Regions from separate parts of the Homo sapiens genome. Here regions 1 and 3 are each linked to region 2. The links come from fine-mapping of genetic effects on gene expression. A gene starts in region 2. Each other region holds a variant in brackets. All regions are shown on one strand. Distances are from middle to middle. Region 1 has its middle 28 kb from the start of FLJ42627. Region 2 holds the start of AMDHD2 (amidohydrolase domain containing 2). Region 3 overlaps TBC1D24 (TBC1 domain family member 24).

Region 1 (9,972 bases), 91 kb before region 2:
GGTGGTTGTAGTCTTTGCTGCCGTGAGGCAGTGGCGGGTGAGGTGCTGGGTGGGTCATTTTCTCCTCATTTCCGTGGCCGTGGACAGGCTAGTGAGTTTCCACCCACAGGGTGCCGCTAGAACCGGACGCCGAGCACCCCCGGCACTGGCCCCGGGGTCCCACGTACGGGGCCTCCTGCCCGGCCTGTCGCATCTGCGCTTGGCTTGGTGCTTGTACAACTGTGCGGCCAAGATGCTCCAGAACACTGCCTGTCTTTCCACAGAAACCCCCGAGTGTTGTGTGCTTGAACTTTTGGGACGTGGCGTTGGTGGGGACACTGGTACCTTCTTCAGTGCTGAGTAGGCTCTGAGGCTGCTGGTCTCCCAGCTTGACCACAGCCATGGGGTCTTCAGCACGCTTGGCTCTTTAAGCTTCTCGTAGAGAGCGTGGACCATGTGCCCAAGGGACCGAGGGTGTTGTGAGAGGCAGGCATGTCGCCCACTTCAGCCTTGTTTCCTCTGAGTTCCTCTTGCCACCTCCCCCGTGACCCCCTCGTACTTAAGTGCTGTTATCATGAGATCCATTTTTCTGGTTTGACTTCTGTCGCCATGGCTTATTCTAACTGGCACCGTGTACGGAGTTCCACTTTCCATGACTGAGGAAGTCCAGATTTTGTTTGTTTTGAGACAGGGTCTTGGTGTGTCACTCAGGCTGGAGTGTAGTGGTGCGATCTCGGCTCACTGCAACCTCTGCCGCTGTGGGTTCAAGCGATTCTCCTGTCTCGCCCTCCCGACTAGCGGGAACTGCAGGTGTGCACCACCATGCCCGGCTAATTTTTGTATTTTTAGTAGAGACAGGGTTTCGCCGTGTTGGCCAGGCTGGTGTGGAACTCCTGACCTCAAGTGATCTACCCGCCTCGGCCTCCCAAACTGCTGGGGTTTTAGGCATGAGTTACTGCACCCAGCTGGGAATTCTAGATTTTATCTAAAAGTCATCCACAGCTAAATTTCTGCTAGTGTCAAAGTTTCCCAACGCCCCTACCTGCTGTGTAACGCCCCTCATCCTCCCGACATCCTTTGAGCCCAAACTCTAAGGGAGCCAGGCTTGGGGAGCGGAGTCTGTGCCGCCTGACGTGGCCACCTGAAGCATTTAGGGACTGCAAACCTCCCTTAAGAGCCTTAAGAGCAGATTCCACAGGTCCTGCCTCAGGGCTTCCTCATGGGTGGTCTTCATTCCTCCAGGATCCCAGAGGAACCCACATATGGGACATGGCAGCTCAGGACAACACCCAGCCACCTACATGGGACAGGGCCACACAGGATAGAGACAAGGAGATGAGGGCCTCAGTGTCACAGACTTCCCAGCCCCGCATGGGTCCCGCACAGCCCCCTTCTCCAGCACCGAGGACGTGAGTGGCTGCGTCAGGGGTGGGTTAGAGGTGAGCCTGGGCGGCAGGGCCTTGGTCTGTGTCTAGTGCCTGTTTCTGAGCCAATCCCACTAGGGGCAGACTGAGATAAAACGAAGCCTCAACTCGAGTGGCTCCACGACAGAACACAAGCGGCTGCCCAGAGAGAGTGCATGTGAAAGACATTCCCTGCCAAAGAGACAGGAGTGGGCATCATGGCTCACAGCCTCAGAGCAGGGGCAGGGCTGGGCCACAGCCCCCGTCACTCCACGCCCCGCGTGAACTCGGAGGAGGCAGGCAGATGCCCAGGCCCAGAGGCCCAGAACAGAAACGGAGTCAGACGCTGCCCAGTGCAGACCGATGCGCAGACACGGACCCGGGGGAGCAGGGCCACGCCCGCACGCAGGTGCCCAGAAACCCTCAGCCTTCACGGCGAGGCCTCGAGCTGTTCTGAGCCAAGCCAGCACCGCAGCACACAGGCAGGCCAGCCTGGGCCCAACGCGTGTGGGCACCGTCCCTGCACCACGATCACTCAGAATGGAACACGGCAGCTGGCAGCAGCAGGCACAGTCCAGGTGATGGCACAGAGACATTCACCACCCTTGGGCTGTCCTTGAGGGAGAGCAGGCCAGGGAACCAGGCCCTGAAGCACGCCGTGGGCATCACCGGGCATGTGCCTCACACACCCGCTCAGACCACCTCAGTCACAGCAGGGAGGAACCCCTCACACCCCTTGTGTCGCCAGCCGGAGCCTGGACAGAGGGAGCCCTCCAAGGAGCTGCAGCCAGGGAGGACCCCACACCCACAGGGTCCCCAGGCCTCCCTGTCCGGCAGCTGTGCCGCTGCCCGTGGCCTCAGCACCAGAACGTCGGCCCCAGCTTCAGAGTACAGGGCCTGCTCCTCCCTGGGGCCCCAGGCTGCAGGCATCTGTGTCTTAAGTGGAGCCCTTGGCACCTTTGTCGGGCCCTTGCCCCCAAAGCTAAGGCACCTGTGCCCAAAACTCGGCTTACCTTCCTCCGCGAGGTCTTTGTTAATCACCAGCTTGCCGTGTCTCAGGTAGTTCAGCACAGGCCCAAAGTAGGTGGGGTCTCTGTCGATTAAATAGGCGCCTGTTTCATCCTAAAGAGAGCAGAGCACGGTGAGTCCTCCGTGAGAAGCCGAAGGTTCCTGCAGGTCCACCAAGGCCCGGCCACCTCAGGAGGCTTCAGAGGCACCAGGTTACCCAGGCCTCTCCCCAGCACACCTGAGCCTGCGGCATCTCAGGAAACCCCTGACGGTGTGGCCACGTCCTGCCGCCTACAGCCTAACCCTGACCAGCCACCACCCCAGGTCTAAGTGAGTTTAAGTCTCTCCGTACGGAGGCAGCCTGGCTCTGCGTACTCCAAGGTGAGCCCACTGTGCCCTGGACCTCTGTCCTCACAACTGCAAGACCTCTAGGAAAACACACACGAAAACCTCACCCAGAGATGCCCTCGCGGGCAGGGCAGGGGCCTAGGGCTCAGCCTCAGAAGGACACCTCTGATGGCCACCAGCCTGGGCCTGCGCTCCTCGTGCCCGGGTCCTCCGCAGCCTACATGCAGGAACGGGGGGTCAGGGTGACAGGGGCTTCCTGCCAGGGGTGGAGAGGGCACCTTTCAGCAGGGGCGGCTGCCCAACAGGCCGGGAGCCAGCAGCGAGGGAGGCCACAGTGACCTGCACTCAACAGCATCCGGGGCTTTCCCCAAGATCATCACTCACCTCACAGAGCCCTCGCCCCGGCTCAGCGCTCACGGAGGCCGAGATGTTTACAAAACAGACCCCTCGGAAGGTGTCCTCACGCACCTGGGTGGAGGGACCCCTGAGAGGCACTGCCCCTGCTGCTACCACGGCCACTTCAATGTGGGCAGATGCCCTCTGAGGCCCGGGGTGCCCCACACATCACACCTTGCAGCCCCTTCCACAAAGCACAAGAGCCCCAGTGGCCCGGCCGTGAACACAGGACGGGGGCTCAGACGCCCCAGGCAGCCCCCATGGGGGAGACGGAAGAGGCAGTTTCTGTCTTGTCGGCTACACATCTGATGGGGGGACTGCGAAGCTGGCACAGCCTGTCTTCTACACAGACTCAGACCTTCCGTGTGGCTCTGCTGGGGCAGCTCCTGCCTCCCCCCACATGCCTGCAAGGGTCCTGCTCCCACCTGCGAGCCACTCCCACAGGGGCTGGTGCCTGCGGGTGCCCTGGAGGCCGGGGAGCTGAGGCCTCCGTTCAGAAACACCGGCAGCCTCCCCGGCGAGGCCCAGGGCCAAGCGCTGGAGAAGCAACCCCACACCCCATTCGGAGCAGGAGCAGCCCCCTCACCAGATGGTGGCTCCTGTGGGGCCATGGGCAGGCGCTGGCCACGGGAATGCCAGGCTCGCAGATATGGGGAGGCCGAAGGTGTCTCCACCACAAAGCACGGGGCCACGCTAGGACCCTATTTTCATCCATGGACAAATTCTGCCATTTGGGTGCTAAGACCTAGTGGTCTCAAGAGATTTTCCCAAAGTCCACCACCGCAAACCTGCAACAACCTGCTCTTTTTAGATCACAGGGACTGAGTTTTGTGGCTGAGATAAAATCAATTAGGGCTCCGGGCATGGGGGCGCTGGACCCGGAGCCTCGGCGGCCCCCCTACTCCTTAGGGTGACCCCAGCTCCACACAGACCTGACCCTATCCTCCTTCCCCACCCTCCCCCGGAACACTCCAGCCAGAGCTGCCCACCCCACAGGCCCTGCCTCCTGGGCTTGGCCCTGCCTTTCCCCAGCCCTCCAGACTCCACAGCTCTCAAGCAAGGGCCGGGGCCACAGGGCCAGCTCCCGGAAAGAGGACGCTGGGCGGTCCTGCGCAACTGCTAAAAAATGGACACCATTTCCCACAAAGGGGCCCAAGTCTGGCAAGGCGGCCAGTGCTGCCACCCGAGTCCAGGGTTCCTCCCTGCCCCACCCCCATACAGAGAGAATGCTGGCCGCGTGACGTCCGCACACCGCTCAGCTCAGGAATTATTCACGGCTCACTGCTACCTCGACAGACCGCTGGCAGGAGGTCAGGAAAGATCAGATAGGGCGGAGGCTCGCCTCTGCCCAGGACAACCCCAGAGAACCCCTTTGTCAGCCATGGAGGCCTCCAGGCCTGGCCTCAGTGGTCAGACTGCAGGCTCACAGCCAGGCCACCCCAAGCCTCAGTTTCTTTACGAGCAAAAGGTGGGGGAGACCAGCTCGTGTAGCTCGGGGCCGCCATGAGTGCCAGGGCACCCAACCTGTGGCAGGACCTGGGCACTGAGCCGTGACCTCTAGGCCAAGACAACCCACCATGCGCTTCTCGGGCCCTGGGCCGATGCAAGAGGAGAAGAAACTGTACTGGGTGCCCCCAGACAACCAGGGCAGCCCCAGCCCTGCAACTGGAAGGACGGAGGCAGGAGGGAAGGAGGGCGGGCCGAGGACGGCCATCAGTTAAAACCACACAGCAGGACAGAGGAACAGGCCTGAGGACCCAGCAGCGTACTGGGTGTACTGGCAGTGGGCTTGGTGCTGCTCTCACCACTGTGCTCTTTTGAGGCTTTCAGTGGCTGATTTCCACATTCACAGTAAGTGCTGGGGTCTGAAACCAACACTCTTCAATCCTACCAGGGTTCAGGTCTCGCTGAGGCCTGACTCGCATCCATATACGTGCAGGGTGTCGGTGCTTTGAGCTCGGGTGAGCCACGTGCTCCAGATTGGCCTAGTGCGTGCAGGGTCTACTCATGGCACCAGCCCAGGCCCAGACAGTGCCAAGCTCAGGCGCAAGGGCCTTGGCAGCTCACTGCTTGTGTCAGGGATGTGGCTCAATAGCCTCCACCCTGATGCAGAAACAAAAATATGGAACATGGGGAGTACAAAAACATAAAAAATTCAGGATATACTCCTAGGCTCACGGAGACAAAGGGAGCAAGGTCACCTCACGGATGTTCAGAACAGTGCCTGAGCCGACCCAGGTAAGGCCCCTGTGCTGCCCACAAGGCCATCAGCGGTACCTGCCCAAGGAGGGAAAGATGCCCCAGCCCGGCCATGCCTCTAAGATGGGTGAGGAGAGGTGGCCAGGAAGCCAGCGGGATGCTGCGGGCCGGGCGTGGGGGTGCTCTTCTTCCTGCGGGCCCGGCGTGAGGGTGCTCTTCTTCCCACGGGCGGGGAGTGGGGTTGCTCTTCTTCACGCGGGTGGGGTGTGGGGGTGCTCTTCCTCTTCTTCCTGGCTTTCCCGTGTGTCCCACGGCTTACACAACCAGCACAGGCTGCGCTCGATTCTCGCAAAGGTTCGTGGTGGTTTTTTTTTTTGTAAGACAGCCCTAATTGGCTGGGTGTGGTGGCTCACA[C/T]CTGTAATCCCAGCACTTTGGGAGGCCAAGGTGGGCGGATCACGAGGTCAGGAGTTTGAGACTGGCCTGGCCAACATGGTGAAACCATCTCTACTAAAAATATAAAACTTAGCTGTGTGTGGTGGTGCATGCCTGTAATCCCAGCTACTCAGGAGACTGAAGGAGGAGACTCGCTTGAACCCAGGTGGCAGAGGTTGTGGTGAGCCAAGATTGTGCCATTGTACTCCAGCTTGGGCAACAAGAACAAAACTCCGTCTGAAAAAAAAAAGCCATAATTAAGACTTTTCTTAGCAAGTCATCTCCCTCATCTTCCCCGCACCTTGCTGAACCGGCATCTGACCTACTTGGGGCCGGGCCCAAGCTGGTATTGGGTGGGCCCAGCAGGCTGGGTTGACCCACCCATCTCCAGGGGTCACAGCCTTCAGCCGGAGCCACCCACCGCAGGCCAGGCAGGCCGGTTTCCAAACCATAGAGGAGAAGAGGGATCCTGGCCACACCAAGAGCAGGAGCCAAGGTTGTCTCCTGGAGAGGAGCGCACGGGAGGCAGCGCCAAGCCAGGGCACACACAGTCTCAGGAGGTAGAAGAAGATCCCACAGACAGAGCTGGCTGCCCCCTCCCCAAGTCCACAGGACAAACACAGAGGGAAGTCTGTTTAGGAGAGCAGCACTCAGAGAAGGCTGGTGAGAAGCCTGCCCACTCTGCTCATGTCACCAGACTCCGGCTGCAGCCCTCAACCCTCCATGCTGTCACCCAGCAAGCAAAGCACCAGAGACAACATGGGGGCACCCCAGCCCCTGAGGAACAGGTCCCTAATGCAACCACCAGCCTTGAAAATGGCAGTGAAGGGCTGGGCTTGGTGGCTCACGCCTGTAATCTCAGCACTTTGGGAGGCCGAGGCGGGCGGATTATCTGAGGTCAGGAGTTGAAGACCAGCCTGACCAACATGGTGAAACCCTGTCTCTACTAAAAATACACAAATTAGCCAGGCTTGGTGGAGGGTGCCTCTAATCCCAGCTACTAGGGAGGCTGAGGCAGGACAATCACTTGAACCTGACAGCCCCGTTGCAGTGAGCCAAAATTGTGCATTACACTCCAGCCTGGGCGATCCAGTGAGCCTCTGTCTCAAAAAAAAAAAAAACGGCAGTGAGGAATGAGGGTGGAGACTGCCAGGCTCTCACGCCAGATTCTGAACCCAACATAACCCTGCTGCTGCCCAACCCTCCCGCAGCTCCCAGAGCTCTGCAAAGAGGGTCGGCCCTGCGGCTCTCAGTCATTCCCGGTGCTCGGAGACACGTGCCACCAGAGGGGAACGAAATCAAGAGGGTGCAGTGCCCTGAGCCAATCCAGGAGATAAACTCTGTCAAATTGCCCCACAGAAATCTAGACGCGAAGGCATAGAATTTCCTGTGCACCAACATCTGCAATCAACCTAATTAGAAATACTTAGTTTTTACTCTGAAATTATCCATTTCAAGTGACTCTGTTTCAATTTCGCACACAAAACCTTCACCTCTACTCTCTCTTCTGTTTTGTTTTATGCAGCTGTGGCATATCTTTGGCCCACAAGAGGACTTTGATGTCACCAATTACTAATGGGGAAACTGAGGCCAGAGACCAAGGAGGCTTGTCCAAGGCAGCCAGATTCGGAGAGCAGGGTGGGGCCCCTGTGCCCTGGTCGCCAGGCCTGCTGCCTCCCCACCACCCTTCCCTTCCATTGCTTCTCGGCCTCACCCAGCATAGAAACTGGAATTTGGGAGGTCCCTGCCCCACACATGACTCAAAGCTTAGTGAGAAGCAGACGTGTGTGGACTCACGACCTGGCCCCTCACAAGAGGTCCTGCGGCTTCTCGGGGAAGAAACATGCTTCAGGTGAACCACGGGGGGTCTTGCCAAGCCGAGGTCGCTGCAGAGAGTCCTGCTCTGCTCGGCAGGAACTGGAGCCCTCTCAGGAGCAGGGGTGTCAGGTTTCTTGCAAGAAAACTCGGGGGCTGCCCAGGAAGCCCTGCCCTCCCCACAGTGCAGGGTCCAGTCCCCAGAGGTGGAGACCCACTCAGCGGGGGCCTGTGCTGCTAGGGTCAGCCAGAGCTCTGGGTGGCAGCAGGGGGACTGGCAGGGCGAGCCACTCCTGGCCATACATGCTGCCTTCAGGGACCTCCGGTGCATCACCCGAGGCTGACAGGGCTGAGTGTGGCCAGAGGTCGACATTAACAGAAATTAAGTGTGGCTGCGGGAGGGGAAAAGCGTTCTTAGCATATCCTTCCTAAAAGTAAAGTACACTCACACCTGTAATCCCAGCACTTTGGGAGGCCGAGGTGGGCAGATCACCGGAGGTCAGGAGTTCGAGACCAGCCTGGCCAACATGGAGAAACCCCATCTCTACAGAATATATAAAAATCAGCCAGACATGATGGCTTGTGCCTGTAATCCCAGTTACTTGGGAGGCTGAGGCAAGAGAATCTCTTGAACCCAGGTGGCAGAGGTTGCAGTGAGCCCAGATAGAGGCGGGATAGAGTGAGACTCTGTCTCAAATATTTAAAAACAAAAACCAAGTACAGGCCGGGTGCAGTGGCTCATGCCTGTAATCCCAGCACTTTGGGAGGCCAAGACAGGTGGATCAGGAGGTCAGGAGATCGAGACCATCCTGGTTAACACGGTGAAACCCCGTCTCTACTAAAAATACACAAAGATTAGCCGGGCGTGGTAGCGGGTGCCTGTAGTCCCAGCTACTCAGGAGGCTGAGGCAGGAGAATGATGTCAACCCGGGAGGTGGAGCTTGCAGTGAGCTAAGATCGCGCCACTGCACTCCAGCCTGGGCAACAGAGTGAGACGCCGTCTCAAAAAAAAAACAAGTACAAACACGAAGACCTCCAGGCACAGCCTCTCCTGACTGCACTGACCTGGTGCCAGGCATGGGGCAGGGGCACCACATTTGTCATCTTCAGGGGAGGACGTCACCCTTACCTTACAGAGGAAGAAACTACAGCTCACAGGGGACGGGAAATCACCCGAAGTCACAAGGCAGGCCCGGGATGGGCACAGTCTCTCACCAGTGCTGGCTACACAGTACATCATCTGCCATCTCCACTAGACGTGATCCCCACTTCTCTTGCCAAGCGGCTTCAAAGACGGTACTCTAGCCCACACCCCATCACTGGGCCCTGTCTGAACAATTCCTTCCATAACTTTCCACCCCCGAGGTCTTGCCAACACCCAGTACACTGTTAGAGGCACCCTGACTGCCCCACCCCTCAAAGACCCATCTGATGCCACCACATCTGGAACCCTCAAGCCGGGACAACGGCCCTGTTCAAAGGGCAAAAGTTCACGTGCAGTTTTCTCCAAGGCTGCCTCAGCTGCAGGAACCGAAGCCTCCCCAAATTCTCCTCCATCTGAGTGGTTTCCAACCATAAAGCAGTAGTATTTCCTGTTTCCTTTTAACTCCTCAAGTATCTCCACACTAAAGCAGGGGCTGCTTTAGCTGGAAACAACAAACTCGACTTTGTTTTCAACAATGCCTATGGGCCGGGGACCATGCAATACAAGAGACCTAACCAAAATGAATCGAGTCTTTGGGAAGCCGTATTCCACCTGGCCTGCCCTCGAAGACACCAAGGAAGAGAAAGATGACAGAACAGCAGATGAGCAGATGCTGAAATGCTCACCACAGCCACAGTCCTGCTGGAGGAAGTCCCAGGAGGAAGTGAGAATTCACACCGGGCTGTCTAGAAAGAGAACTTTGTGGCAGCAGGTCGGCCCTTGGAACAGCAGAGTAAGGGCTTGGGAGCGTGGAGTATGGCGGGTGGTGGGTCCCAAGCTGGGCTCTGAGGACTTGGTTGGGGGCAGTCACAGCCCAGAAGCTTAGATGTGGGGCCAGAGGGCAATCAAGCCAGCCCCTTGATGTGCGTGGCTTTCACCACCCTCCCTAACAACCCGTCTGTCAAGAGCTCCCCTCCCTACCAGATAGGATGCTTTAGCAGGGTGCTCTCCCAACCTCTCAGGCACCCAAAGCTTCTATGGTTTCTTGGGAACTCCTCCCCCTTAAATCTCCCCACCCAACCCCTCTCCAGACCCCCACACTCTGCAAGCCCAGGTGCTCACTCCACACAAGTCTAATAATCCAGGCAGGGACTCTTCCACCAGATCCATGCTTAAGTCCAACTCGAGGAATATTCTTTCCTTAATCTCAACTCTGAGGTCAGGCCTTGGAGATCTTTACAGGTGAAT
Region 2 (8,000 bases):
GTTTTTCCTCACAAGCCCTATGGATACACAGGCTCACTAAAGATTAAAACAGGAAAAAAACAAACAAAAAAAGACAATGGCTGAGTTTTTCCAGAATGGAGTTTTAGAAGGGAGCAAGAGGGCGCTACATAGAGAGAGCACAGTAAAAGATCAACTGAGGGGAGGGGAGTGAGGCACACTCCAGGCAGGTAAACAGCCGGAAAGGTCAAAGTGTAGAGGGTGTGCGGGGCCAGAGGCAGGGGCCTGGCTGCCCCCTGGAGGTGCCTCACCTTGGCTCAGGAGGTAACAGACTTAAAGCAAAGAACAAAGTGAGCTCACCTGTCTCCAAGTACCGTAGCAAAGGACAGGCGGAAACCCCCCAGAAAAGAGAAGGTGGTCTTAATGGACCAGAACAGGACAACAAAAGACCGAAGAAGCTTCTGGCAAAGTGGCCATCCAATTCCACCCAGGGTGAGTGGGCCCTGGAAGAGGTGGCGTGCACGGCACAGGGGAGACCCGAGTGAAAAGGGGCCTCCAGTTTCTAAGATGATCCAGGCAGGAGGCTTCCCAATTCCCACCCTCAATAGTTGGCTCTCTGCCTTCATCCTGTGTGTGCGCCAAGGGTTAAGACACCTGCACTGCAGTGCATGCTGGGAAGAAAACAAAGTCCTACTTGTCAGAGACTCTTCCTAAGGAAGAAGAGCCATAGTTCCTCCCACGCCTGTGCTGGCCAGAGATGCGCAGGCAGTGGGGGGCACAGTGGGGACAGGTAGGCAAGGCTTAGCAGAGGAGGCCTGGGGAGCAGGCCAGGGCCTTCTAGGCCAAGAGTTTGGGGGCAGGAGTGGGGAATGTGGCTGGGGACAGAGAAGAGGCTGGACAGGTAGGAAAGGAATGCTGCCGGTAGGGGTGGGGCAGAGGTGATGTGCTGAATCCTGAATCTTGGACAGGTGGCTCTGACAGGCCCCAGAGCCCCAGAGAGCAGCTGTGAGAACCAGGTGCCAGTTGGCAGCAGGTTTTTGACATTTGACTCTGTGTGGGGAGGGCTGTGGGAAATTTCCAAAAAGACATCCATGGCTAATACTGAGTGGTGAACACTCAGCATCTCACGCACGATGCTGAGCACCCAACGCCCCTAAGCCATGCACGCTGCCTTCATCCTCACTTCAGGTTTGAGGAAACGGAGGCTCAGAAAGGCAGAAGGTTGTCCTGAGTCTTCCAGCCGATACATGACATCAGGAGGCCAATGCCAAATCCAGGAAGCCTGAGCCCAGAACCCACACACCACCCCCATTGTTCCCAGCTCTGGCTCTGCCCACACACCAAGAGAGGGACCCCTTGGGCATATAACGCAAGTGATGATCCTGAAATGAATCCTGTGCTGGAGGGGAAAACGGCGGGGGCTCTGGACAGAACTAGAACACAGACGGCTCAATTAAAGTACTGTTAACAGGGTTCATTTTCTAAACTCACTAACTCTTGTGGCTCCATAAGAAAATATTCATTATCTTAAGAAATAGTTAAGTATTGGTTGGGCACCATGGCTCACGCCTGTAATCCTAGCACTTTGGGAGGCTGAGATGGGCAGATCGTGAGGTCAGGATTTCAAGATCAGCCTGGCCAGTATGGTGAAACCCCGTCTCTACTAAAAATACAAAAATTAGCCGGGCATGGTGGCGGGCGCCTGTAGTCCCAGCTACTCGGGCGACTGAGGCAGGAGAATCGCTTGAACCCAGGAGGCGGAGGTTGTAGTGAGCCGAGATCGCACCACTGCACTCCAGCCTGGTCAACAAAGGGAGACTATGTCTCAAAAAAAAAAAAAAAAAGTTAAGTACTAAGGAATAAACAGGCATGATGGGCCAGGCACAGTGGCTCTCGCCTATAATCCCAGCACTATGGGAGGCCGAGGCAGTAGATCTCCTGAGCCTAGGAGTTTGAGACCAGCCTGATCAACATAATGAGATCCCTGTCTCTACAAAAAACTTTTTTTTTTTGAGATGGAGTCTCGATCTGTTGCCCAGGCTGGAGTGCAGTGGCGCAATCTCGGCTCACTGCAACCTCTGCCTCCTGGGTTCAAGCGGTTCTCCTGCCTCAGCCTCCCAAGTAGCTGGGACTACAGGTAGGCGCAACCACTCCCAGCTAATTTTTTGTATTTTTAGTAGAGACGGGGTTTCACTGTGTTAGCCAAGATGGTCTCGATCTCCTGACTTCGTGGTCCGCCTGCCTCGGCCTCCCAAAGGGATTACAGGCGTGAGCCACCGCGCCCGGCCGAAAAAGCTTTTTAAATTAGTCGGGTGTGGTGGCACAAGCCCGTAGTGCCAGCTACTCTGGGGGACTAAGACAGGAGGATCTCTTGAGCCCAGGAGTTCAGAACCAGCCTGGGCAACACAGTGAGACTTTCTCTACAAAAAATGTTAAAATTGGCTGGGCATGGTGGCACACACCTGTAGTCCTACCTACTCAAGAGGCTGAAGCAAGAGGATCGCTTGAGCAGAGAAGAATGAGGCTGCAATGGGCTATGACCACACCACTCTACTCCAACCTGGGCCACAGAGAGAAACCCTGTCTCTTAAAAATAACAAAAACTGGCCGGGCGCGGTGGCTCACGCCTGTAATCCCAGCACTTTGGGAGGCCAAGGCGGGCGGATCACGAGGTCAGGAGATCGAGACCATCCTGGCTAACACGGTGAAACCCCGTCTCTACGAAAAATACAAAAAATTAGCCGGGCGAGGTGGCGGGCACCTGTAGTCCCAGCTACTTGGGAGGCTGAAGCAGGAGAATGGCGTGAACCCTGGGGGGCGGAGCCTGCAGTGAGCCAAGATTGTGCCACTGCACTCCAGCCTGGGCGACAGAGCGAGACTCCGTCTCAAAAAAAAAAAAAAAAAAAACTAAACAAAAAAAAAAAGCATGTTGGATACAACCTACTCTCAAATAGTTCAGTAAAAAACAGTAGCACAGGTACAGCCAAGAGGAGCCTGAATAGTAGTAACATACAGCAAAAAGTTAACCCTGTAGAACCTAAGTAAAAATTAAAATAAAAAAAGACCAAGGACAACCAAATTTCTTCCGGGCAGGAAAGAAAATGGAAGCGTGGGGCAAGCAGTACAGGAGCAGGGGGAGTCTCTTCTGGAAGGCGTGTTCCACTGAGTCACACATCAGACAGGTTAGGGAGGAAGAGCCTGACCAGGGACTATCGCTGTGCCAATCACAGAATCCCCTGCGGCCTTGGTTAAGGGGATGGTTTCTGAAGCCTGGAGGCAGCCAGAGTGCAGTGCAGGGGGTGGGGACGGCCTATGGCTCAGACGGTGCTGAGCCAGCAGTGTGGAGACAGCTGCGGAGGACAGAGGGTCTAGGGAGGCCAGGCAGAGCGACAACTGATAAAGAAGCACAGGGGCGGGACCCAGGCCCAGATCCGGTCATCAAAGGAGGCCAGACTCAGGACCATGGAATACGTGCTGGGGGTGGGGGGTGGGGCGTGAGTTTGAAAATGAGGGCGCTGGTTGCTCCGGGAGCCCCCTCCACCTCAGCCAGGGAGCCTCACCTCACCTTGTGATAAACCTCCGGTGGGGAAGTGACCAGGGTGGGGCAGAAGGAGGTGACGCCGTGCGACAGGATCCTCCGGGCCACGAGGGCAACCCCCGAACCCACGTCCTCCGTGGCTTGAGAGAAGTCAACACCAAATCCACCTGCAGCCACAGAAAAGGAAGTGTCGCATGGAGCTCAGAGCTCCTCCCCTGGGTTCCCCTGCCGGCCCCGGGCCGCACCGTTGATCTGCACGTCGATGAATCCGGGAGCCAAGATGCGGCCCCCGCAGTCCCGCCGCTCGTCGGCCACGCGCCGCTCCTCAAAGAACAGCTTCTCTGGGTCCAAGATGCGGCCTCCGCGCACCCACAGATCCTCCCTGGGGACGCAGTGGGTGGGCGCTCGCATCGCGGGCCTGACCTCGGCCCCGCACCCTGCACCCCGCCCGGTCCCCGGCCCCGCACCCTGCACCCCGCCCGGTCCCCGGCCCCGCACCCTGCACCCCGCCCTGTCCCCGGCCCCGCACCCTGCACCCCGCCCGGTCCCCGGCCCCGCACCCTGCACCCCGCCCGGTCCCCAGCCCCGCAGTCCCCGGCCCGCGCCCACCTGAGCAGTTTCCCTCCGCGCAGGATCCGGCAGTTAGTGAACTGGAGCACGCGGGCCCCCGCCGCGCCCTGCTCGCCGCGCATCGTGAGCCGTGTCGGGAGCGAGCGGCTCCGGAGCCCCGCGGCGGCCAAATCCCGCGCCCAGTGACGAACCCCAGCCGAGAGCTGAGACCGCGCCCACGTGACCTTCAGCTGACTGAAGCGGCGCGCCACGTGACCGCCGCGCCCACGTGATCGAGCCAGCCCACGTGACCGGCAGCGCCCGGCGCCCGCCCGCCCGCCCGCCCGCCCCCGCCCCCAACAAGCTGAGCAGACACAGGCCCGTCACATCCAAGAACTTTATTGGACACAGCTCCGCGCAGGGCCACGGGCCCGGCGGTGAGGGCGGCTCCATCCAGGAAGTCTCAGCAACAGGAACCCACAAGGCGACACTCTAGCTAAGGTTATAGATAGCTGGGAGACAAGGGCCGCTCCGCAGACGCAGGAACAGGCCAGATCTTTATAAATAAACATCCAGTAAAGAGAAATGACAATTCTAAATCATCCGCATACACAGAGCACTCTAGGGGGTGGGGCGCCGGGGGCCTGGAGGGGCGATGAGTGGGCCCAGATGTCCACGGCACGGGGCGGGCGGGGGCAAGGCCGGGGAAACAGACGATGGGCACTAGGACACTGCGCATGTACAAGACCAACTACTGGGGGCGGCGGCCCCGTGCGTATGTGTCAGGCTGTTCGTTCTGGAATGAGGAGGGGTGGTCTTTACATAATATTCTGTGGCTGGTGGGCTCGGAGAGGGTCTACTTTGTGGAGAGGATGAGGGCGACGATGAGACCGTAGAGGCCGAGCACCTCGGCGAAGATGAGAATCAGGATCATGCCCACGAATAGTCGGGGCTGCTGGGCGGTGCCCCGCACGCCAGCGTCCCCCACGATGCCGATGGCAAAGCCGGCTGCCAGGCCGCTCAGGCCCACGCTCAGGCCGGCGCCCAGCTGGAGGAAGCTCCTGGGGGCGAGAAGAGAGGACTGACATCAGCAGCCTGCCAACCAGGGGGAGACAAGGGTCCGGGTCACCACCCACAGGTGAACCGCCCCCCTCCCTGCAGTCCTCCAGCCCTGGGCAGGGGCCTGACCCCAGTGCTCACTTGTAGAGGCTGATGTCGTCATTCAGGGAGTTGGCGATGAGGACTGCCACCACCAGGCCGTAGATGGCGATGATGCCAGCCATGACCACTGGGATGATGGACTTCATGATCTGCTCCGGCCGCATGACAGACATGGCCGCAATGCCGGTACCGCTCTTGGCTGTGCCATAGGCAGCGCCCAGGGCTGTGGGAGGAAGGCGGGGTGAGCCCACAGCAGTACGCAGGCCAGTTGAGACTAGGACCCCGAGGTGTAGCTTTGGCACAGCTCCAAGGGCCACCCCAAGTTATCACATGCAGAGGGGGAGCCGAAGAAGGCATCCAGCCCAGGGCAAGAGGACCCAGGAGGAACAGCCACGGGCAAGCAAAAGGAGGCCAGGACAGCCACTCCTCCTTCCTCTACGTGAGGCCCCCACCCTCAGAGTCCAGCTCTTCCTCCAGCAGCAGCTCTTGGGGCGGCGTGACCCATCTGGGGCTCCTGGCTCTGCAGTGAACCCACCTGTCACCCCAGGGAGCCTCAGTGCAGCCTCAGCAGCCCCCATGTGGGGTCAGGGTCAGTCGACCCTTGGGGCTACTGCCCAGGACAACATGCTGGAAAAGCCACCAAAGGTCTTGGGGATGGCAAAGCCACTGCTACAGGGTGTGACCGGAGGGTCAGAAGCAGCTGACCTGGCCACTCTTGTCACCCAGGCCAGAGCTCCCTTGACTCACTGCCCAGGCCAAGCTCCCCAACGCTCCCAGCCCCAAATATTAACCTAGGAGGGCCAAACATTCTGCCAGAAAGGGCAGCTCTCAGCACCCTCAGCCACACAGCAGGCCTGAACCCTTGACAGATTGGAGAATCTTCTCTACCAGACAGGAGACAGGGTGAGCCAAGAAGAGGATGGGGGCAGAGAAGACGACGGGGATCATCAACAGTCCAACTACGAGGCCTCAGCTGACCTCCCAGAGAGGTCTCCCCTGCACACGGGGTGGCTCCAAGCACACAGGAGCCTGGCCAGAGGGCCCAAGCCTCCCACCGCAACAGTGCTGGTGGGCTGGGCTCCAGGGTGGCCTGTCTCCTCCAGAGCTGTCCCTCCTTCCTCTCCCAAGAGAATGTTGCCTTTCTTTTCAGTTCCCCTCTCCTGGGCCCTATTCTCAAAGTGGAGAATTCTGTGGACACAGCAGTGTCACGGGGGCTCATTTGCCTTTCTGACTTCTGCCAGCTGCCCTCCAGGGCCACCACAGGGGCCTACTGAGCTGCTTGTGGGGACTGCACTGGCAACTCCCTGCCCCCTCTCTGCCCACAGAACTCATGCCATGGTCTTTTAGGGGAGCAGATCAATAACCAGCCTGACTTGGCCAGGCGCAGTGGCTCACGCCTGTAATCCCAGCACTTTAGGAGGCCAAGGCGGGCGGATCACCTGGTGTCAGAAGTTCGAGATTAGCCTGGGTAACATGGTGAAACCTCGTCTCTACTAAAAATACAAAAATTAGCCAGGAGTGGTGGCGCATGCCTGTCATCCCAGTTACTAGGGAGGCTGAGGCAGGAGAATCGCCTGAACCCAGGAGTGGAGGTTGCAGTGAGTCAAGATCACGCCACTGCACTCCAGCCTGGGCGACACAGAGAGACTCCGTCTCAAACAAACAACAAGAGTGAATCTCTGACAGACACACACACACACACACACACACACACACACACACACACAAACAGCCTGACCTGCAGAAGACTACATATGTCAGAGGTGGAAGGGACCAGGACTACCCCTACCATTCCTCTTCATATTTTATTGATATATTTGGGCCACAAAACTTGCCTACCCTGTGTCCCAGCACTCAGCAGGGGTGAGGACACAGGCGCGGTGACCTCCAGGCACAGAGACATGCTCCAGGAGAGCGGAGAAGGGGGTGCTGGGGAAGGGCTTCACAGACAAGTATCCCAAGTTGGCGGGAGAGAGGAGTCACAGAAAAACAAGGCAATAAGACAAGGGCTCTGGATAGCACCTGCAGAGGCACCCAAGACGACGGTGCTGGGTATCCAGGGAGTGACTATAGAGGGAGGAAGGAGGCTGGGACCTGGGCCAGGGAGCCACACGGCCTCCTCCACGCCACCTTGGAGGTGCCCAGACATGCCATGCCAACACCCAGTGCACCTGCAGACTGGGGCCCAGGGCCTGTCCCAGCGCCTGTCCTGAACTCCTGGTTACAGTGCATTTTTTCCCTGGCAAGCATATAGAGCAATTACAGTGCATTTTAGGGGGCTCCCACTGCAGGCCCAGGACCACATCCAACTGCATCATGTATGCACAAGAGACCAGAGCATGGCAGACACGTTGGCAGGAGACTGAATACAGGGAACTCAGCAACCCAAGTAGTGGACCCTGTGAGGCCAGTAGTCCACCAGAGGCAGGAAGTGAGCCAGGCCCTTTTCTACAGAGGGCAGCAGGAAGAATCATGTGGCTGGCAGGGGGAGGAGGCACCAAGAGGAGCACAGGGAAGAAAGGGATGGCCACCAGGAGCGGAATACCATGAGCACCCTGGACTCCAGTCCGGAGGCCAAGCCTGACCAGACTGCAGAAGGCAGACCTGTGAGCGGCACTAGGCTCAGCAGCCACAGAAAGAGTGGGGGGCCAGAAAGCAGTTGCAGAAACACAAGCATAAAATACAAGGCACTCGCCAGCAGGGAGGAAGTCACAGGAAATACAGAAAAGGAGCAAATGACAACTTCTTGAAGGACATGATGAAGAAAGAACAGGACATTTGTCATGAGAAAAAA
Region 3 (10,755 bases), 28 kb after region 2:
GGTTAGTGTGAGTACCGATCCCCCGACAGGCCTTTGCTGGCCCAGAAGAAAGAGGGCTGCACGCCAACAGGCCGCAGCGTGGCACCATCACAGCGCTGGCTGCCAAATCCACATAGGACAGACACCATGAACTCCTGACCCTGCTCCCCTGGGGCTGTGCTCCAGGCGGGGAGGCCACGCCCAGCAGCCACAGCAGAGACCAGCCACGGAGCCCAGAGCCGGAGGGGTGGAGCAGAGGCTGCCCTGAAATGACCCTGGGAGTGGGCCTGGCCTCCCACGATGCCTTGCGACCCCATGGCCAGCATCAGCTTTCATCTCAGCCGTGGGCCTGGCCCCAGAGGATAGGACCCGATGTCCCTCGTCTGTGGCTGTAACTGGGAAGGCCCTTCCTGTTTCAGTGTCTTTTCAGCCATGCACAGATGGCTGGGTGGACCATGGGCAGAGGCCGCCTGGAGGCCGGCAGGATGAGCTCACGCCAGACACGTCCTGCCCCAGCCCCCGACCCTGGGTGTACCCCTCACAGGCTGCCGGCGACCTACCTCTTCTGCTTCACGGTGATGCCCTTCTGCTTCAGGGCTTTCTCATTGGCCATCTGCAGGAGCTGGATCTCCTTGCGGGAGAAGAGGCGGATGGCGAACGCTTTCTCCAGCAGCTTCTCAGGGGACACCGTCTTCGCGATGTCTCTGACGAACGTGCGGATGTCCTGCTTCACGCTGTCCGACTCCAGCGGCTGCCCGGCCCTCACCTTGTGGAAGAACTTGAGGATGGCCAGCGCCACGCGGTACAGCACCTTGTAGCCCTCCACCAGGAAGACGTCAAAGACCCGGGCGAAGTAGCAGAGGGGCAGCTCCCCAAACAGCCAGCGCTGCCAGTCCGCATAGACCTGCAGGACATCCTCCGACACGGCCACCATCAGCTTGTGGGCCGCCTGGCAGTACTTGTTCACCAGGTCCCCAAACGTCATGCAGGACGACTCAAAGGCCAGGAAGCTCTGGTCGATCAGCCTCCTGCCGGGGTCATTGCAGGCCAGGATGCGGCAGGCCTTCTCGAAGCACTCGGCCTCGTCGATGCTGTAGTGCAGCAGCAGGGCCACCACGGCCGGCAGGGCGGGGCAGAAGGAGATGTCGGGGAACTGGTTGGCCAGGCACAGGAGGATCTTGCGCACGGCCCCCTCGCCGCGTGCATTCAGGCAGTAGCTGGGCACCTGCGTGTTGTCCACGAACTCGGGCAGCGGCAGGCAGCTGCTGCTGTGCTTGCCCACGATCTTGCCCACGATGTCGCTGTACACGCTGGCGTCAGGCGTGACCGTGCGGCAGGGAATGTCCCGGATCAGGCGCTGGTACACCTTTCCCCGCAGGGCGTGGCTTTGGGCCCAGTAGCCCTGGCGCGCCAGCTGCTTCAGTTCCTGCAGTTCAGTGCAGCTCAGCTCCTTGGGCCCCAGGTCCTGGATGGCAGCGTCCATCTTGTCTTTGTCCACGAAGCAGTTGTATCCTGGAGAGTCCATAGCGCCGCTGTGCTCGGGAGGAGGCCCTGGACTGCCGGAAGGGGAGGACAGAGTGGCTAAATCCTCCAGCCCCCTTTCTGAGGGTTTCCTGCAAACCTGTCTGCCATCTCACACCCTGCAGGATTAAAAAAACACTTTTAGCATCTGTGTTTCAAGGTTCACATTTTAAAGAACGTATTTTTTCAAATGTGGTGTAGTTTTCTTTTCTTTTGAGACAGGGTCTCGCTCTGTTGCCCAGGTTGGAGTGCGGTGCAGTGGCGTGACCCTGCTCTCTGCAGCCTTGAATGGCTTGAACCATCTTCCTGCCTCAGCCTCCTGAGTAGCTGGGACGACAGGTGTCCACCACCATGCCCAGTTAATTTTTTTTTTTGAGATGGAGTCTCACCCTGTCGCCCAGGCTGGAGTACAGTGTCACGATCTCCACTCACGGCAACCTCCTCGCCCCTGGTTCAAGCGATTCTCCAGACTCAGCCTTCTGAGTAGCTGGGACTAAAGGCATGCACCACCATGCCTGGCTAATTTTTTGTATTTTTACTAGAGACAGGGTTTCACCATGTTGGTCAGGCTGGTCTCAAACTCCTGACCTTGTGATGTGCCTGCCTTGGCCTCCCAAAGTGTGGGATTACAGACGAGAGCCACCGCCCTGGCCTAATTTTTTATTTTTTTGTAGAGACAGGGTCTCGCTATGCTCTCCAGGCTGGTCTTGAACTCCTGGGCTCAAGCAATCCTCCTGTCTTGGCCTCCCAAAATGTTGGGATTACAGGCATGAGCCACTGTGCCCGGCCTTGTTTTGTTTTGTTTGAGACAAGGTCTTGTGCTGACATCCAGGCTAGAGTGCAATGGCACCATCTCGGCACACTGCAACTTCTGCCTCCTGGGCTCAGGTGATCCTCCCACCTCAGCTATAGCTGAGACTACAGTTAGGCGCCACCACGCCCAGCTAATTTTTTCTCTTTTTAGTAGAGACGAGATTTTGCCATGTTACCCAGACTGGTCTTAAACTCCTGATCTCAAGCAATCCACCCACCACAGCCTCCCAAAGTGCTGGGATTACAAGTGTGAGCCAGTGCTCCTGGCCTGTTTTTTTGTTTATTATTATTATTATTATTTATTTTGTGTGTGTGTGTGTGTGTGTGTGTGTGTGTGATGGGGTCTTGTTCTGTCACCCAGGTTGGCCTTGAACCGCAGGCCTCAAGTGATCTTCCCACCATGCTGGAATTACGAGTGAGAGTCACGTTGCGCAGCCACATTATTTGCCTTAATCTTTGTGTAAGTATTAGAAGGGCTTCCACTTAAGATAAGTGACTTTTGAGAAGCCGTTACAAACTTTGGAGTATACCTTCTTTTCACAGAACTTATGAAGTTACTGGAATACATCACACAGATTCTGAGTAATGAGAGGCTAGAGATAGAGTTCCCAGAAGGGCTTCAAGAGCTTGGCCCTTGGCTGGGCACAGTGGCTCATATCTATAATCTCAGCTACTCAGGAGGCCAAGGTGGGAGGACTAGTTGAGGCCAGGAGTTCAAGACCAGCCTGGGCAACATGGTGAGACCCCATCTCTACCAAAAAAAGAGGCTGACCCTGCTGAAAACACCTTTCCACTCGAGCATGGTCCACTCCAGGCTCCTAAACACCACCCTGCACCCTGGGGGCCTTCTGAAAAGGAACCCCCAGTTGAGAAGATCACTTTGAGCAAAGAGATGCTTCGTTCTAGTTCTCCCTTTTTTTTTTTTTTTGAGACAGAGTCTTGCACTGTCGCACGGGCTGGAGTGCAGTGGCGTAATCTCGGCTCACTGCAACTTCCGCCTCCCGGGCTCAAGTGATTCTCCTGCCTCAGCCTCCTGAGTAGCTGGGACTACAGGCACCCGCCACCACACCCAGCCAGTTTTTGTATTTTTAGTAGAGATGGGGTTTCACCATGTTGGCCAGGCTGGTCTCGAACTCCTGATCTCGTGATCCACCCACCTCGGCCTCCCAAAGTGTTGGGATTACAGGCGTGAGCCACCACGCCCAGCCCGTTCCCAGTTCTCTTTAACCAGCTGTGTGTGCTAAGAAAGTCACAGCCTATGCTATCCCACCCTGTCGGAATTCTGAAGCCGGCTCTTAACTTTCTAAAACCACCAGCTTGAAAGCTATGCTTCAGGCAGGTGCTCCAGGGAGGAATCTCTGGTGAGGAGCAGGCATTTTCCAGAGGGAGAGCTGGGACCTAAATGGAAGGTGCTGCAGCTTTAAAACTGCACATTTCTGGATCCGAATGGGCCAGAAGTCAAGTGGGGGTGGTTGGTGTTTCTCCAAGAACAGCAACCCCTGGGCTCAGGCAAACATAAAAGGAGTGGGTAAGACGTGCCCTGTGGGATTCTGGACAACAGGTGGCTGCCCTGGCCCAAGGATACCGTCCTGCGCACAGAAGTGCAAGGTTTGCTTACGCACATCAGACTAACCTTTCCACCTGGGATGGTAGAAGTTCCCAGTGTGCCCCAGGGGTCTGCTTCAGCAGGTTTTGGTTGAGTGACCAGACCACTCCGGTTTCTCTTGCAGCTAGAACATTCACCTACCTATTATAAGGCAAATACTGCTTTAAAACAGTTCTTGAAAAGTAAAAATCATAGTGTAAAACGTACGTCTGCGAGACACTGTCTTGGGAAAACACCTCGACACGTGTTTTTGTGTGTGTGGTAAAATACACATAGCATAAAATTTACCATGTTAGGCCGGACGCGGTGGCTCACGCCTGTAATCCCAGCACTTTGGGAGGC[C/T]GAGGCGGGTGGATCACGAGGTCAGGAGATCGAGACCATCCTGGCTAACACAGTGAAACCCTGTCTCTACTAAAAATACAAAAAAACTAGCCGGGCGTGGTTGCGGGAGCCTGTAGTACCAGCTACTCGGGAGGCTGAGGCAGGAGAATGACGTGAACCTGGGAGGCGGAGATTGCAGTGAGCCGAGATTGTGCCACTGCACTCCAGCCCAGGCGACAGAGCAAGACTCTGTCTCAAACAAACAAACAAACAAACAAAAAATTTACCATTTTAGCCATTTTTTATTTATTTATTTTTTTGAGACAGAGTGCCGCACTGTCGTCCAGGCTGGAGTGCAGTGGCGTAATCTCAGCTCACTGCAACCTCCGCCTCCCTGGGTTCAAGCGATTCCCCTGCCTCAGCCTCCCAAGTAGCTGGGATTACAGGCATGTGCCACCACGCCCGGCTAATTTTGTATTTTTAGTAGAGACAGGGATTGTCCATGTTGGTCAGGCTGGTCTCGAACTCCCGACCTCAGGTGATCCGCCCGCCTCAGCCTCCCAAAGTGCTGAGATTAGAAGCGTGAGCCACCGAAGTTGATTTTAATGTATCCCACTGGAAAAACCTTGCCCACAGCAGGACTAGGCCTCAGAAGAAAAGAAACCCTTAAGACCATTGATTGGTTTGCTTCGTCCTGGGAGGGAAGGCAGTGAGGGCTCCCCCTTTCCCTGGTCCTGAAGGTCAGGCCGACAGGTCCACTCACATGCGCACAGCCACGCCTGGGTCACACTGCACAATCTTACACGTGTCGGTCGGTTATCCACAGCTTACATCCCTCCTTCCCTGCTATGGGCCCACTAGCCTCTGGAGGAACTCCAGGCCCATCCTGTTTGGGTGAAAGAACTGGCTCCTTCTTAAGGCAATAAACATGTTTCTAAACAGAACAGGAGCTGGGCAGAGCAGCACCAGCCTCCACTCGGCTGGCCCCAGATTCAGGTTGAATATTAAACTGGAAACAGTAAAAGCTGTGGGTGCACCTTGCGAAGTTCCCTTAGGGAGATGCAGATCCCAAGTTGTGTTTACTGCCGCGAATGGTCCGGCGACGTGCTGGACTCACAGGGACCCCCGAGCCAAGGATGTGTGCAAAAGACCCGAGGGAGCCCTTGGATTCTTTCTTGTTCCCCAAACCCTCACTCAAAAAGAGCGCACGACATTTCTGGGGCTGTGCACACAAGGCAACAACCCACTTAAGGCATCTATAAAAACCAGGTCCAGGCCAGCAAAGGGGCTCACATCTGTAATCCCAGCACTTTGGGAGGCTCAGGCAGGAGGATCACTTCAGCCCAGGAGTTCAAGACCAGCCTGGGCAACATAATGAGACCTCATCTCTACCAAAAATAAAAAAAAATGGCCAGGCCTGGTGGCATGCACCTGTAATCCCAGCTATTTGGGAGGCTGAACGGGGACGACCTTTGGACGCCAAGCCCAGGAGTTCAAGACTAGCCCACACAACATGGCAAAACCCCATCTCTACAAAAAAATACCAAAATTAGCCAGGCGGGCCAAGCACGGTGGCTCATGCCTGTAATCCCAGCACTTTGGGAGGCCGAGGCAGGTGGATCACAGGGTTAGGAGTTTGAGACCAGCCTGGCCAGCAGGTAAAACCCCGTCTCTACTAAAAATACAAAAAATTAGCTGGGTGTGGTGGCACATGCCTGTAGTCCCAGCTACGTGGGAGGCTGAGGCAGGAGAATCGCTTGAACCCGGCAGGCAGAGGTTGCAGTGAGCCAAGATGGAGCCACTGCACTCTAGACTGGACGACAGAGTGAGACTCCATCTCAAAAAAAAAAAAAAAAATTAGCCAGGCGTGGTGGCGCATACCTGTAGTCCCAGCTACTCAGGAGGTTAAGGTGGGAGGATCACCAGAGCCCAGGAGGTCAAGGCTGCAGTGGGACCTGATTGTACCACTGAACTCCATCCAGCCTGGGTGACAGAGCAAGACCCTGTCTGAAAAAAAAAATAAAATGAAAACAAAAATAAAAAATAAATACATAAATAAAAACGAGGTCCAGATTGGTTTCCTTAGGTTAAAAAAAAAGTCTTTCATTACGCTGGTGATATTTGAATGCAAAAATCACAAAAAGTCAAATAGTACCAAAATTAGGGAGTAAAAATGTAGAGTTCTGTTTAAATTACCTCTCTAATCCTACTCCCCTTCCACATACAGATAATCGCTATTCACATTTTGGTATATATCCTGCCAAACCTTTTTCTTGCATTCACAACTGAGTGAGGTTTTCTTTAAACTGGCAACTGAGATGAGGAGGTAAGGGGAGGTGGAAACTGATCAAAAACATAAACTATCCCAGGCTGGAGCACTTATGGGCTTGAGTGCCCACACTCTGGAGGTGAGCTTTCACGGCCGAGTGGCTTTCCCTGTTGTCTATCTGCTGGCTGGCTGCTGCTGTACATCATAAGCCGCACCTGCTCCTACGCAGCAAACAAGGCCTCCTCTGTTCCCTGCAGTCCCCCAACCCCTGACAAAGGTGCAGAGCCGGAGGCGGTGGCCGGGGAGGGAGTGAGAGGGGAGGCAGGGGCTACTGTGGAAACGGGGCAGCTTTGCAGTTAGACAGGCCTGGCCACAAAGTCCAGCTCTGCCACTTGTTTGCTTGAAATGCGGACAAGCCGTGCATCTTCCCTAACCTGCGGTTGCCATGTCTGCAGAGCGGAGCCGATAATAACACCCAACTCCTCACGGGCAACAGTTCCCAAGCAACCCCTGTGGGTTGAGCCTCACTCTGGACTGACAGGGTGGGGTGCAGGTGACATAAGGGTGACACCCCATGAACAGTCTATCCCACTCTCTCTCCGGGTTCAGGCAGCCCAAGGCAGACAGTGCCAGCAGGGCCCTGTGAGGGTGCCTCCTGTGGGGGAAGCCATCTTCCTGTGGCCTCTGGGGTCCGAGCGAATCGCTGCTCGCCATGAACACTGCACTGCCTTCACCTAAAGTGTGCTTCCCCACCAGGCTCCAGTTCCCTGCAGAGGCACGGAGTGAGGTGGCGCTGGTTCTCCGAGGTGGCACCTGTCAGCCCAGCTGCCAGCAGCTCCCTGAGTGTGGAGCAGAGAAGCACTCCTCCTGTCTTTGGTCCTCAGCCTTGGGCCCAGCCTGCAATTCCAGGAAAATAGGAAAAATTCCACCTGACACCCACGAGACTCACAAGAATTACAGACACAGACAGTTTCAGATGGTGGGGGTCCACACCGTGGGTCTGGAGGGTGACAGCTACTTTACTGAGGATCCTCAGGGCACACCTCTCCCAGGAGATGACATTGAGCCAGAGGAGTGAGAAAGAAGCAGCCGGGATTGCTGAGGATGAAGCGCTCCAGACACCAGCAGAGTAGGTGCAAAGGCTGAGGGAGGAACAGGCTGGCTGCGCTACAGGGCGCAGAGGGCAGCACGGACACACCCACAAGCCCCCGTGGATTATATTCCAAGCGCAGTGGGAAACTGGCAAGGGATGGGCTCTAGTCCCTGTTCTGTTGCGGGATTTACTGAGCCTGTTGATAGAAAGCACTCAGCCCAGCCCGGCCGGCCAGGACCGCTCAGCTGCCTGAGGATGCTCTCATCCTTACAGGGTCCCAGGCCAGGTGCTAGAAAGGTGTTCTAGAATGCCTGGGACATCACGGTCCCAGCGGGTCAACACGCAGCCGGTCCTGCAGAGGGAGGTGCAACTGCACGGGCCAGGGGCAGCTCTCTCACAGGCCACCGTCCCCTCCTAATGCCTCTCTCCACAGCCAAGCTGCCCTCCATACCCAGTGCGGCTTCTTTCTCACCCGGGAAGCCTCTCCAGGGACCTACATGGCCTTTCCTCATAAACGCCACGCCTGTTTGAGAGCTCAAGGTACCTGCAGATCAGAAGCAAATGTTTGTATTCATTTGTTCGCTCGTTTATTTATTTATTTATTATTTATTTATTTTTTGAGACAGAGTCTGGCTCTGTCGCCCAAGCTGGAGTGCAGTGGCGCGATCTCGGCTCCCTGCAAACTCCGCCTACCGGGTTCACACCATTCTCCTGCCTCAGCCTCCCGAGTAGCTGGGACTACAGACGCCCACCACCACGCCCGGCTAATTTTTTTGTATTTTTAGTAGAGATGGGATTTCACCATGTTGGCCAGGCTGATCTCGAACTCCTGACCTCGTGATCCGCCCGCCTCAGCCTCCCAAAGTGCTGGGATTACAGGCGTGAGCCATTGGGCCATGCCTCATTCATTCATTTTGAGACAGGGTCTCACTCTGTTCCTGCTCCAAAGCAAATATTTCTTTCTTGTTTTTTTTTTTTTTTGAGAAGGAGTCTCACTCTGTCACCCAAGCTGGAATACAGTGGCACGATCTCGGCACACTGCAACCTCTGCCTCCCGGGTTCAAGTGATTCTTCTGCCTCAGCCTCCCAAGTAGCTGGGACTACAGGCACGCGCCACCACGCTCAGCTAATTTTTTTTTTTTTTTTGTATTTTTAGTAGAGACGGGGTTTCACCGTGTTAGCCAGGATGGTCTCGATCTCCTGACCTCGTGATCCACCCGCCTCGGCCTCCCAAAGTGCTGGGATTACAGGCGTGAGCCACCGCGCCCGGCCAAATATTTCAAAAAAAAAAAAAAAAAGCAGCCAGGTGCGGTGGCTCACACCTGTAATCCTGGCTAACATGGTGAAACCCCATTTCTACTAAATCCAAAAATTAGCTAGGTGTGGTGGCGGGCGCCTGTAGTCCCACCTACTCAGGAGGCTAAGGCAGGAGAGTAGTGTGAACCCGGGAGGCAGAGCTTCCAGTGAGCCGAGATTGCACCACTGCACACTGCACTCCAGCCTGGCGACAGAGCGAGACTCCATCCCACAAAAAAAAAAAAAAAAAAAAAAAAAAAAGCTATGTGCGAATGAGTAATGAGTATAAGCGATTTCTATTTCCCCAAAATGTTATCTTGATATGTCATCTGACGCATGTGACCACCGTGCCCTCTGGCCACAGGGCACAGTTCTGGCTCTACCACATGTGAGGAGGGGCCCTTTAAATGGCTACAGGCTTGCAGACCCCCACCCCGCCACAGCCCCAGCAGCCTTCCCAGGGAGGGCAGTTCCTGCCAGTTGACCAGTGTTCAGCCAGGAACACCCAACAGCAGCCTATGTCCTCACTCCATGGGAGCTCCAAGAAACCCCCAAATCCGTCCCTGGCAGCAAACCCCCTGAAGGCGCCCACAGGAAGAGGAAGGCGGCCAGGGCTGGGAGGCGGGCCGTCTGTCAAGAGTGTGGCACCCTGAGCTAATTTCTAGCCAGGAGGCAGGTGGGAGGTAGCATGGATGTGGGAGGAAGTAGATCCTCACTGGAGAACGGGGCAGGAGGGGCCCCAGCGGGGCAGCTGGCCCCTTCGCTCCAGCAGACAAGCAGCTCACCCCAGCCTCGGGGCGGAACACAACCCCACAGCTGCTGGCTGCTGTTGCTGCTCCATCTCCCTTCATCCTGGGACAGCGAGGACCTCCGAGAGAGGCTCCAGAGGGTCCCTGAGCACAGGCAGGACCCACGCAGGTCTGGGACTTCAGGGCACTCGGCCACTTCTAGTACCAGGGCCCTCCCACGAGTCCTGGAGACACAGGCCACCCCGGCAAGGCTGCCACTAGTAACACCACCTGCCATCCCCAAACACCAAACTCCAACACCAAACTCCAGCACCAAACTCCAGCACCAAACTCCAGCACCAAACTCCAGCACCAAACTCCAACACCAAACTCCAACACCAAACTCCAGCACAAAACTCCAGCACCAAACTCCAGGCCTGACAGCCTGAGTCACGAGGCCTCTGCACGTCTCGCTTCTTCAGAGGGGAATGTGATTTTCCCAAACAACCGGATTTGAAAACAAACTCTCTTTCATGTACAAAGACAGAACACACATTTAGCCTCATTGATGACATTTTAACACGGCCAACACCAACCCCGACACCGTGCCTCCCTTCCTGGGGACCGCTCCTGTCCCAGGTCACAGCAAACGTGAGGAGGCAGCATACGACCGCGGCTCCCTCGTCCTGCAGTTAGTCACATGACAGACCTCCACTGAGGTGCCGCCTCTGTGCCAGGGAGAGGCGGCTTGAGAGAAGGCTGTCAACCACGGCAGCTGGGGAAGTGCTAGGGGAACCCCACGGGCAGGGCTGTGCCTGCTGCTGTGGAAGGGGCGGAAAGGTGTGGAGGCAGCCTGTGGGTGGGGACGGTGCCCCTCAGATGTGGAGGCAAGAGTGGGCGAAGGCGAGCTGGGCGGCCCTGGCAGTGCTGAGGGGCTGGGATGCGCTAAGAGGCGGGTGTCCCCACACGGGGTAGGAGGAAAGTCTAGGCAGGTGACCCGATCAGATCTGCGTTTACAAAAATCCCCCTGGTGGCCCTGGAGGAGGAAGGGTTGGGACAGAGAAGCCAGGGAGAAAGGAAGGCAGAGTCTAGACCGGGAGGGTGGAGAAGATGAGGGGACCCCCAGAGA

The links. PIP is the estimated chance that this variant, and not a neighbour inherited with it, causes the effect. A credible set is the group of variants that fine-mapping cannot tell apart.
Region 1: its variant is the best candidate, but not a certain one, in a credible set for the expression of AMDHD2 in whole blood (INTERVAL, PIP 0.76).
Region 3: its variant is the best candidate, but not a certain one, in a credible set for the expression of AMDHD2 in whole blood (TOPMed, PIP 0.54).

What each region holds. Positions count from the first base shown.
Region 1 is chr16:2,606,492-2,616,463 of GRCh38, reverse strand. It overlaps the pseudogene LOC652276. Among named protein-coding and RNA genes, the nearest start is that of FLJ42627, 28 kb to the left of the region's middle. The variant C/T (reference allele first, on the strand shown) is at 5,748.
Region 2 is chr16:2,516,647-2,524,646 of GRCh38, reverse strand. AMDHD2 (amidohydrolase domain containing 2) reads right to left here and starts at 4,276. Exons shown (of 11, transcript NM_001330449.2): 1 at 4,106-4,276; 2 at 3,742-3,878; 3 at 3,524-3,663. The coding sequence starts at 4,188. ATP6V0C (ATPase H+ transporting V0 subunit c) reads right to left here. Exons shown (of 3, transcript NM_001694.4): 2 at 5,246-5,429; 3 at 4,429-5,106. The coding sequence ends at 4,902. RefSeq lists silencers at 4,061-4,130, 4,301-4,410.
Region 3 is chr16:2,486,898-2,497,652 of GRCh38, reverse strand. It overlaps TBC1D24 (TBC1 domain family member 24), which reads right to left. Exons shown (of 8, transcript NM_001199107.2): 2 at 540-1,619. The coding sequence starts at 1,504. Among named protein-coding and RNA genes, the nearest start is that of TBC1D24, 17 kb to the right of the region's middle. RefSeq lists an enhancer at 232-837. The variant C/T (reference allele first, on the strand shown) is at 4,262.